Homo sapiens: one gene and its partners. The protein of the gene in region 2 interacts with the protein of the main gene of each other region in a pairwise test. Each region holds a gene or a part of one and is shown on either strand. Other genes may lie near its edges.

Evidence for each region.
Region 1: the proteins of ACO1 (region 2) and MYBPC1 interact in a two-hybrid assay, tested with the Homo sapiens proteins (one large-scale study listed by BioGRID and IntAct).
Region 3: the proteins of ACO1 (region 2) and DSCAM interact in a two-hybrid assay, tested with the Homo sapiens proteins (one large-scale study listed by BioGRID and IntAct).
Region 4: the proteins of ACO1 (region 2) and CCDC69 interact in a two-hybrid assay, tested with the Homo sapiens proteins (one large-scale study listed by BioGRID and IntAct).

Annotation. Positions count from the first base shown.
Region 1 is NC_000012.12:101,680,888-101,684,249, reverse strand, and holds part of MYBPC1 (myosin-binding protein C, slow-type), read right to left. Parts: intron 1,647-3,362; coding exon 1,588-1,646; intron 1-1,587. UniProt on the Homo sapiens protein: Thick filament-associated protein located in the crossbridge region of vertebrate striated muscle a bands. Slow skeletal protein that binds to both myosin and actin.
Region 2 is NC_000009.12:32,386,384-32,392,050, reverse strand, and holds part of ACO1 (cytoplasmic aconitate hydratase), read right to left. Parts: exon of another isoform or gene 5,609-5,667; intron 1-5,608. UniProt on the Homo sapiens protein: Bifunctional iron sensor that switches between 2 activities depending on iron availability. Iron deprivation, promotes its mRNA binding activity through which it regulates the expression of genes involved in iron uptake, sequestration and utilization.
Region 3 is NC_000021.9:40,011,159-40,015,741, forward strand, and holds part of DSCAM (cell adhesion molecule DSCAM isoform CHD2-42 precursor), read right to left. Parts: intron 2,229-4,583; coding exon 1,876-2,228; 3' UTR 1-1,875. UniProt on the Homo sapiens protein: Cell adhesion molecule that plays a role in neuronal self-avoidance. Promotes repulsion between specific neuronal processes of either the same cell or the same subtype of cells.
Region 4 is NC_000005.10:151,186,093-151,190,675, reverse strand, and holds part of CCDC69 (coiled-coil domain-containing protein 69), read left to right. Parts: intron 1-3,216; coding exon 3,217-3,290; intron 3,291-4,551; coding exon 4,552-4,583. UniProt on the Homo sapiens protein: May act as a scaffold to regulate the recruitment and assembly of spindle midzone components. Required for the localization of AURKB and PLK1 to the spindle midzone.

The sequences.
Region 1 (3,362 bases), on a different chromosome or scaffold from region 2:
TGTAAAAGATGTAGGAAAATAGAAGCACATGAAATGAAGGGTGGGGATCCAGTCACGTCAAAAGGATCATTAATATGTAAAACATTTATTAATATGCACAACTACTTTGCCTGAATAGGTGGCAAAGTCATTCTGATTGTATAGTGAATATCTATGGTAAGAGCTTCCAAACCATTAGCTTAAAACAAATACAAAAACCAAAACCCTACAACATATATATATCGTGTTTTTCAACAAAAGAAAAACATAGACAATAGACAAAGTGTTAGTGTACATATATATATGTTGAAATTCTAAAAGGCAAAATTATCAAGTACAAATATTAGACTAGTGTATTCTATAATATTGTATTCTGCATGGAATATATATGACTGATCTAAATAGACACAAAACCTTATGTTACAAAGCTATTCTATATACAATCTACAAAGCTTTCAAAAAAGAACCTTACTTTTTTCCTCTTTTGAAAGCTGTTATTATCTCTGGAAACTCACAAAACAAATATTGTAAACTCAGGCATAGATCTACATTATCAGGGTTTTTATCAGGTTGCATACCCAGCTGCAAAAAACTCTTAATTTGCAATTCCAAATGGGGGTGAATCACATATATATGATAGTACTCATTTATTGCTTGATACATTTTGTAATAGAGCCTGGAATTTTCTTTCCTTTTAAGTTCATAAACGTGAAATAATTTGAGTCCCCATGAAAATGTCCAAAATCTTCAACAGATAGATGGGTTACAGATATTCTACTTGTGAATTTGTAATGGGAATATTTTAAATATGTAAGTTTCCCAATTTATTTTTTTTATTTTTTATTTTTTTGAGACAAAGTCTCACTTTGTCACCTAAGCTGGAGATCTTGGCTCACTGAAGCCTCCTCGACCTTCCAGATTCAAGTGATCCTCCTGCCTCAGCTCTCCAAGTAGCTAGGACTATAGGCATGTGCCACCACACCTGGCTAAGTTTTGTACTTTTTGTAGAGATGGGAGTTTGCCATGTTGCCCAATCTGATCTTGGACTCCTGGGATCAAGCGATCCACCTACCTCAGCCTCCCAAAGTGCTGGGATTATAGGCGAGAACCATCACGCCCAGCCTCTAAATATTGGATCTATTTTTGTATCCTCTTTCCATAAAAAATGCTCAGAACATCAAAAAAAATGTTTGAAATGTTCAGTTCTCTGAATTGCATCATGAATGTAAGGAAACTATGCTGTCAACTATCTTTAAAAAAGTCTCTCTACATTTAAAAAATGAAAATATTAAAGAAATATTGATACCCAAGTTTTGATAGTCTTATTATATAAAACGAGATCATCTTCAAATGTAGCTTTCTGGCTTTATTCATGGAGACTTGTGGTATGGTATGTAGCTTTCTGACAAAACTTAGTTTCTACATTACTTAATATCCTTGAATAATTTGGCCTTCCTTGTTCATGGCATAAGCACTGTATGCCATGAGCTGCTAAGGGGTACAATTAAAAGCAAATGAGAAAGTCAAGCTTTACATGCAAGGTGCATTTTCATGTAAGAGGAATGGAACGGAAAGTAGAATATCCAGTGGGATATAAACTTTTTAAACCTGTTGCTGCCCCTCCAGGAAGACTGGTTGTCCAGGGGTATTTACTCCTTGATATATCACTGCAGAATCAGAATATTTGTACCAGTATTTATTTATTCTCAGTTGACATTCTTACCTTTTTTCACAACTCAACTTGATTCAAGTTACCTATTATCAGAGTAACAGTCTGATGATAAACAATTTCAGCTTTACTTTTAGGACCAAAAGCTTTTATCAATATATCACAATTGATACTTTATTACGAACTTATGTACTAGAATACATTATTCTTTTTATCAAATTTAATTACTGTACCATTTACTACATTTTCACTAAAAAGAATATATCATGTATATGTATAATACTATTCGCTTTTAAGGAGGGCCCCAAATATTGTTCCATTTGTTAAAGCATCATTTTATATCATTAACAACATTCAGCTAGTTTCAAAGCATAAATAAGTGGTACTTTTTTTTTTAGTTTTTGTTTTTTGGGGGGATATTGAAACAAAAGCATCAACAATACTTTGGAACTAATAAGGCTAGCAGTTTAGAAACCAGATGACTTGCAATTATGAACTTAATCATTTAAAGCCAATAAAGCAGCTAAAAATGTTTAAATTTGTAAGGGTTATCTCAATAGTAAGGCTTGAAATTTTCTAAGAATATTATATGCCTTATATTTGTGAGGAAAAAAAAATCAAATCTTTTTCCTTTCACTCAATTATGAATTGTGAAAGAAAGAATACAGCTTTAAAAAGTTGTAAGAGGAAAGCAGCTGGGTGCAGTGGCTCACGCCTATAATCCCAGCACTTTGAGAGGCCAAGGCAGATGGATTGCTTGAGGCCAGGAGTTTGAGACCAGCCTGGCCAACACGGCAAAAACCCGTCTTTACTGAAGATACAAAAATAAGCTGGGTGTGGTGCTGCATGCCTGTAATCCCAGCTACTCAAGAGGCTGAGGCACGAGAATTGCTTGAACCCAGGAGGCAGAGGTCGCAGTGAGCTGAGATCGCACCCTTCCACTCCAGCCTGGGTGACAGAGCAAGACCTTGTCTCAAAAAAAAAAAAAAAAAAAAAAAAAAAAAAAAAATATATATATATATATATATATATATATATATATATATGAAAGTTATTTTGTTCAAGAAGTTTCCCTCTCATATTTATACTAGATTTAGGACTAAAAGACTCTTTTTAAAAAACATAAATACCCAAGCATTTACTATGATTTTCTAAAATAGATATTTACTAGTTTTTGATTATAATTTCTTCATTATAGAGAGGTTGGAAAAAGAAAGATTTTGGTTATTACAGAATGGCAATATAATACAGTTAAGAATGAGAGAAAACACATTAGGATCATGTCACCTATTATCTCATAATGGTGACTCTTTGAAGGGGTTTTCATGGTGTCCCAAAGTAGGTTCTGCTTGTAAAGAAAAATATCAGCATAAAAATGGTAGTTGATTAATTTGAAAATTGATTAAGATGGCAGGTTATGCTTTTCAACCGCATAAATCCTTATGTGTTTTCTTGGTTTACATTAGTTGCTACACTTTGAAAACTAGTATAAATGAAATGTATACCTATAAATGGAAGTTCTCCAGTTAGAGATTTGAAAAGCAGCCTGTTATAATATGTATATGCTATATTCTATATGTGTAATATCAAACACTTAATTAGCAAAACTATTTCTATAAATATCAGAAAATAACAAACTTTACAAAATAGTAAACTAATTAAAAATAGTGCAGATTACTCAACTGTCATTTCAATAGATGGATTTTTACACTAG
Region 2 (5,667 bases):
GGCAAAATTTGTATGGTAACTTTTAAAGAATGGGTTGATGTAAATAATATAGGCATTATTAGCACTTAGACTGATTTCTTATCTAAGAAAATAAGGGTTTATGAAACATAACATCCTTAAAACCAATCCTGAGGCTACTTTTGATTCTGCCGTTAATACAAAATTGTACCTTTCAAATGTCCACCCATCATAGCTCTTGTACATCGCAGATTCTTGGCAATGGCTTATTTATCTTATCTGTTCTGAACCAAAAATTCAAACCTGGTAATCATGTAGGAGGATACTTTCCTAGACTGACACCTCTTCTTCATGAACTATGCCACAACTTGCAACTTGCCATGTAATTCCACAATAGCAGTTATAGAAAGGATGACAAGGATGTTGAATAATTAAGTGTTCCATACATGTCTGTTTTGCGAGCAGTGGCCCAGACAAGTTACACTATCCAAAGATGGGCTTGCCCAGGGTTCTCCTTAGATCAAGACAAGAGGATGAGAGAGAACCACACCAGCACTCATGTACAAACAGCCTTACTAATTCATCTAAGGTGGATTAATTTTTGACACCAAAGATAACAGCAGAACATGAGGAATCTGAGGAACAACTGGCTCAGAGAGTGTGATATTGTTTCAATAGGTCTATGGCATTAAGGGGCACAAGAACCTGTTCCGTCTCCCAAAGACATGCTTAGATGCTTTTGCGTCTTCACATATTTGCAACATCTAATCCCAAAGACTCTTGGTTTCCAATTGATTCTTAAAGTCAGTCTCTGCCACTTGCTGCTGAGGACAAGATTTCTTCTATATTCTTAAACCTTAGTTTACTTCTTTGCAGATTTTAGGTAACAATGTCTGTCTGCACTGCTCTGCCCAGATGACAAGGGCTGCTAGGATAATTAAATGAGGTAACACACGAAAGCACTGCATATTCTGGGAACTATATCCCCGTGAGCTACCATAATTCATGAGATTGCTATTGACTTACCTATGGTAAGCTCTAAATGTAGCCTGTTTCTTTTACTGAAGATTTAAATATACATTCTAAAACAAGTATTTAAAATATAGTCAAGAATCACTCTTATCCAATACAAGTGACCCAATATTATTCAGTTGTATTTTTTCAGGTCTTTCGCCTGGTGGGGGGAGGTGAGGGGATGCATTGTATGATTAGAGAAGACCCACAGGCTCCAGATATATTTGTGAAAAAATGACAAAAGATCATTAAAAACATTTTCTTTTTAGAAAGCTACGTTTTTATATTGGCTCGAATTTAAGACTCTTTTCATGGCTCAAATTTAAGACTCTTTTCACCATGATTCTTTAAAATCTTTTAAAATCCAAACAGATGAAAGAAAATGTTCTTGGTCCTAGGTCATATTTGAAAATTTTTCTTTTAATGTGATGGATTTCTTTTATACTCAAAATTTTTCTCCAGTGAACTTAATCAATTCAAATTATTTTAGCATGTATTTCTTGAGTATCTTCTTTGTATTACGCATTGCTAAATACCATAGAGGAAAAGAAGATAGGCACACATTCCTTCTCTTATTTGAAGACTGCAATCTGACAAGGAGACTAAGATAAGCACACAAATACAATAGGATGAGGGTTATAAGAAAAGTCAAAGGAAAGAGACAGCTACAAGTGGGATTCAAGAAAGGCTTTACAGAGAACTACGAAGTGGAAGATGAATTCAGATGCACAGGCAGAGTAAAGAGCAAATACCAAAGTAGAGAAACAGGATAGCGCAGCAAGTGTTCAGGGGCTCCTCAGCAGTTCAGTATGGCTGACATTAGGGCAGAACAGTTTTAAGATTTTTGCTACAGCAGTCAATACATGCTTATTCCTAAAAGACCTAATAAGTGATTCTCGTTAATTTATACAGCTGCAAATGAAGATGCCAACTCTTGCCAGAAAGAAAAAGAGGTGATGTTGAAGAAAAGTATAAGGGAAGAGCCAGGCGCAGTGGCTCATGCCTGTAATCCCAGCACTTCAGGAGGCTGAGGCAGGCGGATCACCTGAAGTAAGGAATTCGAGACCAACCTGGCCAACATGGTGAAACCCCATCTCTACTGAAAATACAAAAATCGGCTGGGCGTGGTGGCGCACGCCTGTAATTCCAGCTATTCTGAGGCTGAGACAGAAGAATTGCTTGAACCCGGGAGGTGGAGGTTGGAGTGAGCTGAGGTTGCACCACTGCACTCTAGCCTGTGTGACAGAGTGAGACGCTGTCTCAAAAAAAAAAAAAAAAGTATAGAGGAAACAAAATTGGCCAATTATCACTGTTCACAGTCGTTGAGGCTGAGGGTTTATACTCTCCTCCCCACTTTGTATGTCTGAGATTTTCCATTAAAAATAGAGAAAAGGAAAAAAAAAAAAAAAGAAATGAAGGCCAGTCGATCTAGGGAGACGGTCAGCTGATGGTGCCAGTCAACTGAAGTGAGAGGGCGAGGCCAAGGTCAGACAGACTCTACAGGGGAAGCAGACACAGCACAATGTGACTACATGGTAAGTGTGCCTGTTTTTCGGTTCGCCATGCCTCACACTCCTCACATTTCTCACTGGGAGACAGTAGCTGGAGTCTGCCACCAGGTAAGCTGGTGGTAAGACAGCCTAAGAAAGATGGAAGAACTGTCCTCAACATACCAGGTGTAAACATACTGTAGGGGTTGATTTTGGTAATGTCAAATGTAATATTTATTCATGCTTGAAAACCCCGATAAGCTAAAATGAAGAAAATCTAAAAAGCAAGTGTGCTGTATCACCTAGAGAAAAGCACTCAATGTTTTGGCATATCCGCTGCCTTTGTACATGCAGGGGCACACTCGTACATATATGCACATGCTTTCTCTCCTCAGAAATACAGAATCACAGGGAAATACTGCTGTGTAACATGCTTTTTTTAGTTTAAAAACTATACAACACTATTTTGTAACACCAGTGTAAAGGCTGCACAATAGCTTGCTAAGGAACACTTTGAACTAGTATTACTAACCCTGGACAAGAGTCAAACATTAATACTGTTAAATAAAATGTTTTGACTTGAGAGTCTCTCTCTTATTTTTATACTAATATTATATATACAAGTTCAGAGCTGTGATATGACAAAGCAGTTTTTTTTAATTGGGGGAGGAGGATGGTGGCAACATTCCTATCAGAGAAATAACTCTATTTTCCTTCCGAAAGTATACGTTGTTGGGATTTTAGGTTTACTATGTTGTAAAAGCAATATATGAATGCTACAGGCTATCCTCCCTTATAAGATAGGCACACATCTGTTATTATGAAAAGTAACAAAAGTTCTCTGGCTTCCTTCTACCTCATTCCACTGCCCAGAACTGGCTACTGGTCTATCTTCTAAACATTCATGATGCTACTTTAAATACATGGAATGGAATATGTAATGACACATGCACACAACTTATGTACACATAGATGTACAAATATGCATACACACAGGTATACACACACAGTGTACTCTACAATGTATCATATACATATATAACGAGGATTTTTTTTTTTTGAGACAGGGTCTTACTCTATTGCCCAGGCTGGAGTGCCGTGATGCAATCATGGCTCACTGCAGCCTGGACTTCCCAGGTGATCTTCCTGCCTCTGCCTCCCAAGTAGCTGGGACTACAGATATGTGCCATCACACCTGGCTTTAATTTTTTTCTGTATTTTTGGTAGAGATGGGGTTTTGTCATGTTGCCCAGGTTGGTCTTGAACTCCTGGGCTCAAGCGATCTGGACTCTCAAAGTGCTGGGATTACAGGCGTAAGCCACGGTGCCTGGGCCTTTCCATCCTTTTTAACATTTCCTTTGTCTCTGCCCCTGGAATCAAGACAGCTCTTAGAGACACTACTAGTTTTTGCATAATAATATGCAAAATTCACACAACGGGTTAGACTGCAGGTACATCCATTCTAGCATAACATCTGAGATGGCTCCAGGGAGGGAGTTGGGAATAAGACCCATATGTGGCTCTGTCCTCAAAACTTCAACACACTTGGCCTTCCTTTAAACAACCTACTATGGAGTCTTCCATGATTGATTCCAAATCCTCTACAGTTACTACTGCCCGCTACGTCCATCTTGGAGACTCAAGTTTCTGGTATTCACGCATAAAGTCCTGAAGAATCTCCTTTTCCATAAAACTCTCTCTTTGAAACATGGTTCTTGTTCTGATAGTCTAGGTCAGGAGTCTGCAAACTATGGCTGGCCCTTGTTTTTGTAAATCAAGTTTGACTGGAACACAGCCATGCTTGTTTGTTTGCATGTTGTCTATTGCCGCTTTCGTGCTTCAACACCAGAGCTGAGTAGCTGCAATAGAAACTGTATAACCATAACCCAAAAAGCCTAAAATATTTCACTACCTGTCCCTTTACACAAAAAGTTTGCTGATCTATATTTTAGAATATGATGAAAACAGATTTTTTTCCTTATCAAAAATTTTAGAGGACTTGAATCATACACCCTATATCTAGGATCTTTGTCTAGGCTAAAGAGTCTGTTTTCTACTAAAAAAACAAACCAAAAGCACCTTGGCTCAGACAATAGCAGTGTCAGCTGGCAAAGGTTTAACAACTTGAACTCCAAGAGGAAAAAAAAGCTCTGATGTAGCATTTGCCAATTTCCATGGTGTTATTATTCCCACCATGGCTTATTTCAATCTAAAAAATGTGTTGCCACTGAACACGGAGTTAGGAAGAGATATGCACAAATGCTAGTATAAACCAGCTCTGAAACCACTGGCTCCTTGGGACACTTACTATCAATGGCCTAACTCCTCATTTTAAAGTCAAAGACACTGAGACCCAGAGAAAGTGTCTTAACCCGAGGCTGGCCCAGTGACTGGCACCAGGTTGGAGGTAATTTCCCTGTGAATCTGGCTGCCTCACAGGAAATTACTTCCTATGTAGAAGGAAGAGTGGGGGAAAGAAGGCAAAGGAAGTTCTTTGCCAGGCACGTGGTGATACACGTTGGTTTTTATCATCATCTTCACAGTGTGGGACTGGTTTCTTCAGCACATGCCTTTGAAGCACACTTTAGGTAGGGGGTACTGCTCTTCACACAGGACCAGCTTTCATGTACACACTCTGACTATATAATAGACTATCTCAATTAACCAGCAGTTATCAAAGCTATCAGACCATAATTGCCAGAAAGACAGGGACTGCATCTTTTGTGCTCACTACTTTCCTGGCATCCCGCACATAACTGGACACATGAGAAATAGGTGGCCAATAAAAATCTACTGAAAGAATGAAGGAATGAGACCCCACCATCAAAGTGGAATTTTTTAATACAAAGAACACAGCAGGTGCTCAGAGTTTAGATCCCATTTCCTTCTCCTGTGGACTTCTCCTCCTCCTCACCTGTGGACTGTGCAACACACACAACACGCTCATGTGCATGCAACATTTCTCAAGTATCGGCTGTAGCATTTAAACTGATCCATCAGAGCACAAGAGGCTCTATGGATGAAGGAACAAAAGGGAGGATGGAGTTAGAAAATTTCTTCCTCCCAAATATATACACATAACATCTGTCTTGAACTTGTTCTGACAAGGCACGAAGCTAAGGAAAGAGTCCCGTGAAGGACCTCACCTACCACACTCCAGGATGGTGGAAACTGCTTTTTGACAGGGGCTGAGGAAGCACCACTC
Region 3 (4,583 bases), on a different chromosome or scaffold from region 2:
TGAGAGTATGCAAACAGTACACGTCAACACGGATTACATTCTGAAACCATGGATGCACACCTCACATTCCTGGAGTCATCTAACACTAGCATCAGCAGGTGGTCTTGACATGGTCCTGGACCCATTCTGTGTCACTGAATCTAAGCAGACAAATGGGCCTGCCTGGAAAATAAATAGAAGGAAGAAAGGATGGGAAAGAAGGAGGGAGGGAGGGAAGGAAAGACATTTCTGAATATGTTCCCAAGATGGTAATAACTGGCACCAGTCTATGTTGGTGGCCTTAATGGAAGCCTGTAGAGAATCTTCAGCCTGGGAGACTGAGCAGCTGTGGATATTTGATCATGTTTTCTGGTTAATGCCAAATCTCTGACACAAAGACCTGTTTATCTTTCCATTTTATGGAAGTGAGCCTGGAATGGAGTGTTGCAGCCAGGGGAGGATTACATCCTCTTTCATAAAGCAAACCCTGTGAGGGTTGTGGGATAAAGAATGCAGTTCCGACTATTTATGAGTAAATTCTCTCTTAGGATGAGCCACATGGGAGATAAAGTGAGGGAAAGGAAAGTAAAAACTTAGATTTTAGAGGAACATCACTTTCCTCTGGTTACAGAGGATTCAGGCAATGTTTATTAAGATGGTCTATCACAAATTTGCATACCAGGCATAGTGGAGATAGGAAAAGTCATGGAGGGTAAGATGCACGATCTTGCCCCTTGTCACGCAAGCTGGGGCTACATTTCAGACTCCAGAGCACGGGTCTGGCAAATGTTTCCTGTAATGGGCCAGGTAATAAATATTTTAGGCTTCATGGGCTATACCATCTCTGCTGCAACTATTCAGCTCTACCATTGTGCCATGAAAGCAGCCATAGACAATAGCAAATAGTGCATGTGGCCTTGTTTCAATAAAACTTTATTTAAAAAACAGCAGGAGGCTGGATTTGGCCCATAGGCCACAGTCAGTTGAACTCTGGCCATGGGCAGGCAAGGGGCAGAGCTTTGCGACGGGCTTCGAATACTTGGGCTGGCCTCTGGTTGCGGTGGAGACCAGCCTGCATTTTGTCCTCTCCAGCTTGAGAGCAGGAGCTGCACCTTCTTTGTGCTTCCTGGAGATTCCTGAGGAGTTCAGGGTGTTAGTATCGACTCTGGTTTATTGAATTGGGCTCTGGGTTCAGGCCTGGTGTTTCCAAACAGAAGTGTCAATGGGAAGGAGGACCAGGCCACTGGCAGAAGACGAGAGAAGCAGACATGGAAATAAAGGCAGACAACCTTTTCTTTTTTATTTCGCTTAGACAAAATGCAAAGAGTGTCTCATTAAATTAAAAAAGAAACAAGAGAGAAAACCAAATTGATTCCCCCCACCCCTTCACTGACGGCACTCATCCTAATTAACAACAAAAGAAGACCAAATTGAGAACCCGGTTTCTAATGGGAAAGAAAGGTGTGCAAACGTGACTGAAGTTTTCCCCTGCCCGCAAATCGGTGTTCCTTTTAAATTCACAAATAGGCTGATTTCCCACCCACCCTGTTTTCTTTCTTGCCTCTTGTGTGATAGAACTTCCAGTCAGAAGGTTTAATTAATCCCCCCCATGCACTTTTGTAGAAAATCAGTAAAAATGCAATAGCCTGTGAAGATCATAAAACTGGACTTCTTTCCCAAAAAATCAGATGCCCAGGCGGATGGAGCTCACACTCAGACAGAAAAAAAGCAGGAGAGTCTTTGCACTGTCTGTGGTTTCAGTATTTTCTCTTTTTTTTTTTTAATATATTTTGGCAATTTTCTTTAATTATAAATATTGGAATTCCGTAAAAAAAAGGTAGCTTTGATTGAATTGTTTGAATTGTATTTACAACCGCTGTCCAGTCATGCTGTCTGTTATACCAGGGTGTAAGATTTTGCGTAAGGATTGTTTCCTTTCAAATGGCCCCGGGAGTCGAGCAGTGATTCTTGGGAGCTGCTCATTTTAGCTGCCTGTCCCAGCTCTGCTCCCTCCCGCTGAGGTAATGTGGCCACGGCCCCCGGCTGCCACGACTGTCCTTCTCTCGTGGAGGAGGCGGAGGAGGCGGCTTCCATCGGGATGGGCTCCAGGACCGTGGGGCGCTTCAGGGTCCGGCTTTTCTGAGGTTCCAAGCATGCTTGTCCTAAGCTCAGGTCCCTGCTGGTGCCTGGACCACCTCGGTTTAACAAAAAGTCCATTCTAAGGTATGGAGGCAAATGTATGAGGTCACCTAGAAGGAAAGACAGGGTAGTTAGTTGGTGTCTTCATTTGGTAAACATGGGCAGAATGTCCTGTGTGCACACGGGAAGCCATGCGGGCTTTAGAGATGAGAATGCCGCTGCACACAGGTGCCTTTCTCAAGATCCTCCTTCAGCGCTCACCACAAAGACAGGTGGAATCGTCCTCCTACCTCCTCCCTGGGCGCGGGAGGAGCTCATTTTCCTACAGTACTTACTTACTTGTATTAACTTACTTGTACAGAAATGGAGGAATGGAGGTAACAGAATCCTTCAACACACCATCGTTGAAAGAAAAACATACATCAAAGGCATCAGTGTCCACTGGGTACGAACGGTGATAGACCAAACCCCGCATGTGATTGGAAGTACAGGGAGAGCACAGGGTTTGAGGAGAGAGCCAGGGACGCCAAGCGAAGATGGACAGCTGGCTCTCGTCCTGGCAATTCTATGAAACCTTGTGACCTTGGCCAGCCACTTAGTTATGGGTCTTCATGATGGCTTTGGGTGAAAGCGCCACAGCTTATGGCCTTCTTACCAGGCCCTGCCTACCTGCTAACTTCTGCGTGGCTCTTCTGTTTCAGCCATGCTGTGTATAGAGATGACAGCAGCTTAGACCAGAATTCTAGTGTTTCTACTTCCTGCTTATGGTCACTCTGGCTTCTGTGGTGCCACGCAAACATAACCTCAGGTCTCCTTCAAGAGCATCTGCTGGCTGGGCACGGTGTGCCTCATGCCTGTAATCCTAGAACTTCGGGAGGCCGAGGCGGAAGGATCACCTGAGGTCAGGAGTTCAAGACCAGCCAGGCCAACATGGCAAAACCCCCTCTCTACTAAAAATACAAAAACTAGCCAAGCATGATGGTGGGCGCCTGTAGTCCCAGTACTGGGGACACTGAGGCAGGAGAATCGCTTGAACCCGGGAGGAGGAGGTTGCAGTGAGCTGAGATTATGCCACTGCACTCCAGCCTGGGTGACAGAGCAAGACTCAAACAAAACAAAACAAAACAAAACAAAACAAACAAAAAACCCAAACCAAAACAAAAAAACCAAGAGCATCTGCTGCAGGAAGGGAGGCATGTGTTCTCTGGGATGCTGCAAGCCAATGACAAGCGTGACAGGGCTTTTCTCATGGCCGTCCCCGCCCGATGCAGGATCTCCCTAACAGGCATCCTTTGCTCAGGGATACCCCATCAGCCTCACTGCAGCCTTCTCAGAAGTGCACCGCAGCCTGACGTGCCTCCAACCAATCCCTCCTTCGCCTTCTCCTCTCACAGGTGTCGGACCTCTGTTATGGTCTCCAGACTCTCCTTGCCACCTCCTGCTTCCTTTTGCTTCCTTCTTCACAAGAATTTCCCCAATAAATTCCTTGTGTGTCTAATCTGTCTTGCTAGGCGCTTCTCAAAAACCTGAACTGACACAGCTTCTTTCACCATCAGCTACTGAAAGGTCACCCTGACCTCTCATTGCCAAATTCTCTGGTTTCCTCTTCGTCCTCTTCCTACCTGCATTACTATAGCATTTGATGCCGTTGATATTTTTGTTGTTGGCCCTTTCAGCTGCCAGGGCACTGTGGTCTTCCAGATCTCTGCCTACATTTCTGGCCACCCTTTCTCACTTTCCTTGACTGGATCCTTTTCTCTGTCTTTCCTCTAAATACGGAGTGTTCAGTGGCCTGCTCTCAGGCCTCTCTCGGAAGGCTTGGCTGCTTTCCTCATTGCTTTATAAATAACATTCCCATCTATCTTTTCCATTTTGCTCTTTCTCCTGAGCCCTAGATGTGAATTTTAGGTGCTTTGCTAGGCATTTCCACACGAGTGTCCATCTGGAATTCTGAAGGCCACAGTCTACCAATTCAGTTAATGAAGGCCAACCCCATCCCCTCCCAATCCCAAATACTGCTTCTCTCCTGTGTGCTCCATCTTGTGTAACATTATCACCATCCTTCCATCCTTGAAACCTCAGAGGTTTCACTGACACCTTTCTCTCCAGGTTAATTCTACCGGCAAAATATCTCTTGACTCTTTTTTTTTTTTTTCTTTTTTAAACAAGAAGAGATAGAGTCTTGCTCTGTTGCCCAGGCTAGAGTGCAATGGTGCATTCATGGCTCACTGTAGCCTCAAACTCCTGGGCTCAAGCAAACCTTCCACCTCAGCCTCCAGAGTAGCTAGGGCTACAGTTACATACCACCATGCCTGGCTAATTATTATTCTTAAAATATTCTGGAGACACAGGGTCTTGCTTGGTTTCCCAGGCTGGTCTCAAACTCTTGAACTCAAGTGATGCTCCTGCCTCAGCTTCTCAAAGCACTGGGATTACAGACATGAGCCACCTGGCCTTGACTCCTT
Region 4 (4,583 bases), on a different chromosome or scaffold from region 2:
TTTTTTTTTTGAGACAGAGTCTTGCTCTGTCACCCAGGCTGGAGTGCAATGGCATGAGCTGGGCTCATTGCAAACTCTGCCTCCTGGGTTCAAGCGATTCTCCTACCTCAGCCTCCCAAGTAGCTGAAATTACAGGCACCCACCACCAGGCCCAGCCAATTTTTGTATTTTGGGTAGAGACCGGGTTTCACCATGTTGGCCAGTCTGGTCTGGAACTCCTGACCTCAGATGATCCACCCACCTTGGCCTCCCAAAATGCAGGGATTACAAGTGTGAGCCACCACGCCCGGCCTGAAATTGCTATTTTACCACATCTAATGGAATGTAAAAAGCTTACCGTCATGTAGGTTCCTCTGTTCTCTCCCATTTTTGTTACATTTATCTCATGTATTACATCTACATACATCTAATGCCCCATCAGACAAGGTTATAATTTTTGCATTTAATCATCAATCATATTTTAAAGAGCTCAAGGGAAGAACAGTCTATTGTATTTACTTAGGTCTTTACCAGTTCTGTTACTCTTCCTACATTCTTGAAGTTTCAAGTTTCAAGTTTCCCTCTGGTTTCATTTGAAGAATTTCCTTTAGCAATTCTTTTAGAGCAGGTTTGCTGGTGATGAATTCTAAGTGTCCTTCATCTGAGAATGTCTCGATTTAATCTTCTTTCCTGAAGGATATTTTCACTGCATATGGGATTCTGGGCTTTTTGTTATGGTTTTGTACTCCAAAAGAAAGCAGGAAAGAGAAAACAGAGGATAAAGATCAGCGAGAACAAACAGAAAACACATCCTAAAATGGTAGACCTCAACCCAACATTATGAACATCAACATTTTCCAGCAGTTTTTAAATTTTTTTCTTCTGGTCTCTAAGGTTTCTAATGAGAAACACACAGTTATTCAAGCTGTTGTTCCCTATATGTAGTGTACCATTTTTATCTGGTTCCATTCTACACCTTTTCTGTGTCATTAGCTTTTGGAAATGATGTTGTCTGGGTGTGGATTTCTTTGGGCTTACTTTGGAGTTCAGTGATCTTCTTTAATCTGTAGGTTTATGTTTTGGCAAGTTTGTGGAATATTCAATCATTCTTTCTTCAATTTTTTTTTTTTGCACTGCACCCTTTTTCCTCTAATTCTTTGACTGTGATGATAGTAATGTTAGCTATTTGGGCATTATCTTACAGGTCTCTGAAGCTCCGTTCATTTTTTTTTCTAATCTTTTTTTCTCCTCTATTGTCCAGATCAGATAATTTCTATTGATCTATCTTGAAGTTCACTGGCTCTTTCTTATCATCTCATCTCCATTCTGCTATTGATTTCACCTAGTGAGTTTTTATTTCACTTATTATACTTTTTAGTTCTAAAATTTCCTTTTGGTTCTTCTTAATAACTCTATTTATTTGCTAAGACTTTCTATTTTTCTATTATTCCTAAAAGTATATTCACTCTTACTTTCCTTTTCTCTTTTTCCTTCTTGCCGTCAGTGACAGAACACCCATACTTCTTGGAGTCTTTTTACATTGATTACCATAAAAACTCTGTTAATAATTCCTACATCTATAGGATCTCAGTTTAGGCATCTGTTGAATATCTTTCCTCAAGGGAGTTTTTCTTCTGCTTCTTTTTAGGCTGAGTGATTTTGTATTGTATGCTGAGAAATTTGGGGTTGTATCCTGGACATTTAAAATATCTAAATACGTGAGATTCTGGGTTTGTCTAAATCTGTTGGGTCAGTGGTACTTCAAATTCTGGTCTTCTTGCTCAGTCTGCTGCTACCATTTACTTTTCAGTCTGCAAATAACTGCAGAATTCATTCTGTCCAGGTTTTATAGCTACATTCAGTAGGAAAAACTGGATGGAGTGTGCTTCCTTCATCTTACCTGAAACCAGAACCTGTCTTGATAGGCAAATTAACAAATTAGGCCAATAATTTTAAAAAGTTAAGGCTGTAATTTTTATATGATAAATTGATATTATATATTTATAAATATTATATATTGATAAATTCTTATAAATTTTTTACTACTCTACCACAGTTATATTACTGAACATTATTTTTTTCTTCTTTTTTTTTTGGAGACAGAGTCTCTGTTGCCCAGGCTGGAGTGCAGTGGCGTGATCTCAGCTCACTGCAACTTCTGCCTCCCGGGTTGAAGCCATTCTCCTGCCTCAGCATCCTGAGTAGCTGGGACTACAGGCTTGCACCACCATGCCAAGCTAATTTTTGTATTTTTAGTAGAGACAGAGTTTTGCCATGTCGGCCAGGCTGGTCTCAAACTCCTGGCCTCAAGTGATCCTTCCACCTCAGCCTCCCAAAGTGCTGGGATAATAGGCATGAGCCACCGTGCCCGGCCTTGAACATTATTTTTTTCATCACTGCCAGATACCTGGCTCTTTGGCTGTATTATACTTTCCTGTCTCCTCTGTTCTATTTCCCATTCTGCCCGTTGATTGTCAGTTGCCCATTGTCTTTTTTCAGCTGAGACAAGGTTGGAATTTTCCAAAAGGAACTTTATGAAGGAGATGGGATGATACATACAACTGTATTGATTTGGGGAATGACGATAATTTCAGCTGTGTACAGCACCGCCCTGTCTGTGAAGCCCTTGCACGTCCTTCTCATGTGATCCTCAAATGACCCCTTTGAGACAATCAGATCCAGTTTATTGATCCCATTTCACAGTTGAGGTAACTGGACTTTTAGATGTCTGATATGATCTTCTCAAGGTCTCTCAGTTTCGGAAAGGCAGAGCCAGGACCAGGTGGATTTCCTAGCCACAAATCCAATGTACTTACTGCAGTTTTGTGCTTTAGTTTGACAACTAAGGATTTAATGATTTTGTGATTTCGCTAATCCAGTTTACAAAGCATTGTCCTATGCATTTTCCGTGGCCCGAGGTGGTCTTAGGTGAACATGCTTCCTGCAAGATCTTTGGATCTTAGCTTTAGTGAGGTGTGGATGGCACCCGCAATCTGGTAGCGTTCCTCCCAGGCTATAGTTTATTTCAATTTCCTTGAGGTTTTATTAAATACCTAGTACATTTCTGGCACAGCCCCCAAGCAAGCCTAGGAGACAGAAGGATGAATAAGACCGTTCCTAGACTCCTGGCCTCTATGGGCCCCAGTTAAATATCTGGACCTTCCTGGCCACCAAGGGGCCTGCAGAAGGCTTTGGGGAGAAGTGTCTTGAGCTTATGGAGTTCTCCTTTCCCTACAGTCCTCCGGGCCTCATATGAACAGGAGAAAGAAGCGCTTACCCACTCTTTCCGGGAGGCCAGTTCTACCCAGCAGGTGAGAGGGGCTGGGTCGTGTCAGTCTTGGATAAGGGTAAGTGAGGACCAATGGGAAAGCAGCATGGAGCCCCAAGGCAGCCAAAACTGATTACGTGTGCCTAGGAGTGAGGGGCTGAGGTGATTGCCTTCTGTGTATCCAGGCCCCTTGATGTAGTAACCAGGCTATTAGCTCAAGAGGACTGAGTGTGAAATTGAGTTGGGCCTATTTTTCCAGGGACTGCTGGGGAGATCTTGGAGAGGCATGGGCCAAGTGCCACAGTGTGATTAGATTCATGGGTGGATGCACAGGGACCTGTGGAAGGATGCAGGGAAGCATCTGACTCAATGTGGCTGTGCAGGAAAGATTTCCTAGAGGGAGTGAGATCTAAGCTGGAGTCTGAAGGATGGGTTGGAATTCTTTGGTAAAGAAGGGTAGGAAGGGTGCCTCAGGCAGAAAAAAAGCAATGTGTTCAAAGACATGGAGGAAAAAGGAAAAATATGGAATACCTGAGGAACCGAAAGATGTCCAGGATGCCTGGGGTATGAGTTTCAGTGGGAGAGGGGACTAAGGCTAAGAACGTGAGCAAGGGCCAGAGTGGAAGCCAGTGAGCCACCTTAAGGGGTTGTGCTCTAGCCTAACGGTAGTGGTCACGGTTCAAGTAGAGAAAGTTCTTGGCAGTGAAACAGTTTGGAGATAAGAATGTACCCTGCAGCTGGGGGACTATTGTGATGTTTGGCTGCAGGAGAGGATGTATAGAAGGAGCAGTGAGAGGTGAGCTTGGAAAAATTCATTGAGCCTGGTTTGGATGTGTTTTGAATGCCAGGCTAACAACCATCTTTTATAGCAGGACATTGTTCCCTGCAGTATGGGGAGCCGTTAAAGGCATTAAAGCAAGAGGTGGGGTTGGTATGTTCCTTTCATCTCCTCTCCTTCTCCCTCTCCTTCTCCTTCTCCCTCCCTCTCCTTCTCCTTCTCTGTCCCCCTCCCTTCCCCTCCCTATCTCCCTCCCCCTCCCGTCCCCCTCCCCTCCCCTCCCGTCTTCTTTTCTTTCCTCTTTTCTTTTCTCTTCTTTCTTTCTCTTCCCAGCATGCAATTCTGCACTGTAAGGGCTGGTAGATCTCAAGCAGTGGTCGAAGTATGTTGATGTTGCATTGTCATGTAGAGTAGCCAAAGACAGATTGAAGAACCCAAAACCGTTCTCCCTCTGGGATGTGGCGAAGTTCACCTACAGCATTTATGAGGCAGGCTTTGATTGTCTCCATCCCACTCCCTGCTCCAGGAGACCATAGACAGACTGACCTCACAGCTGGA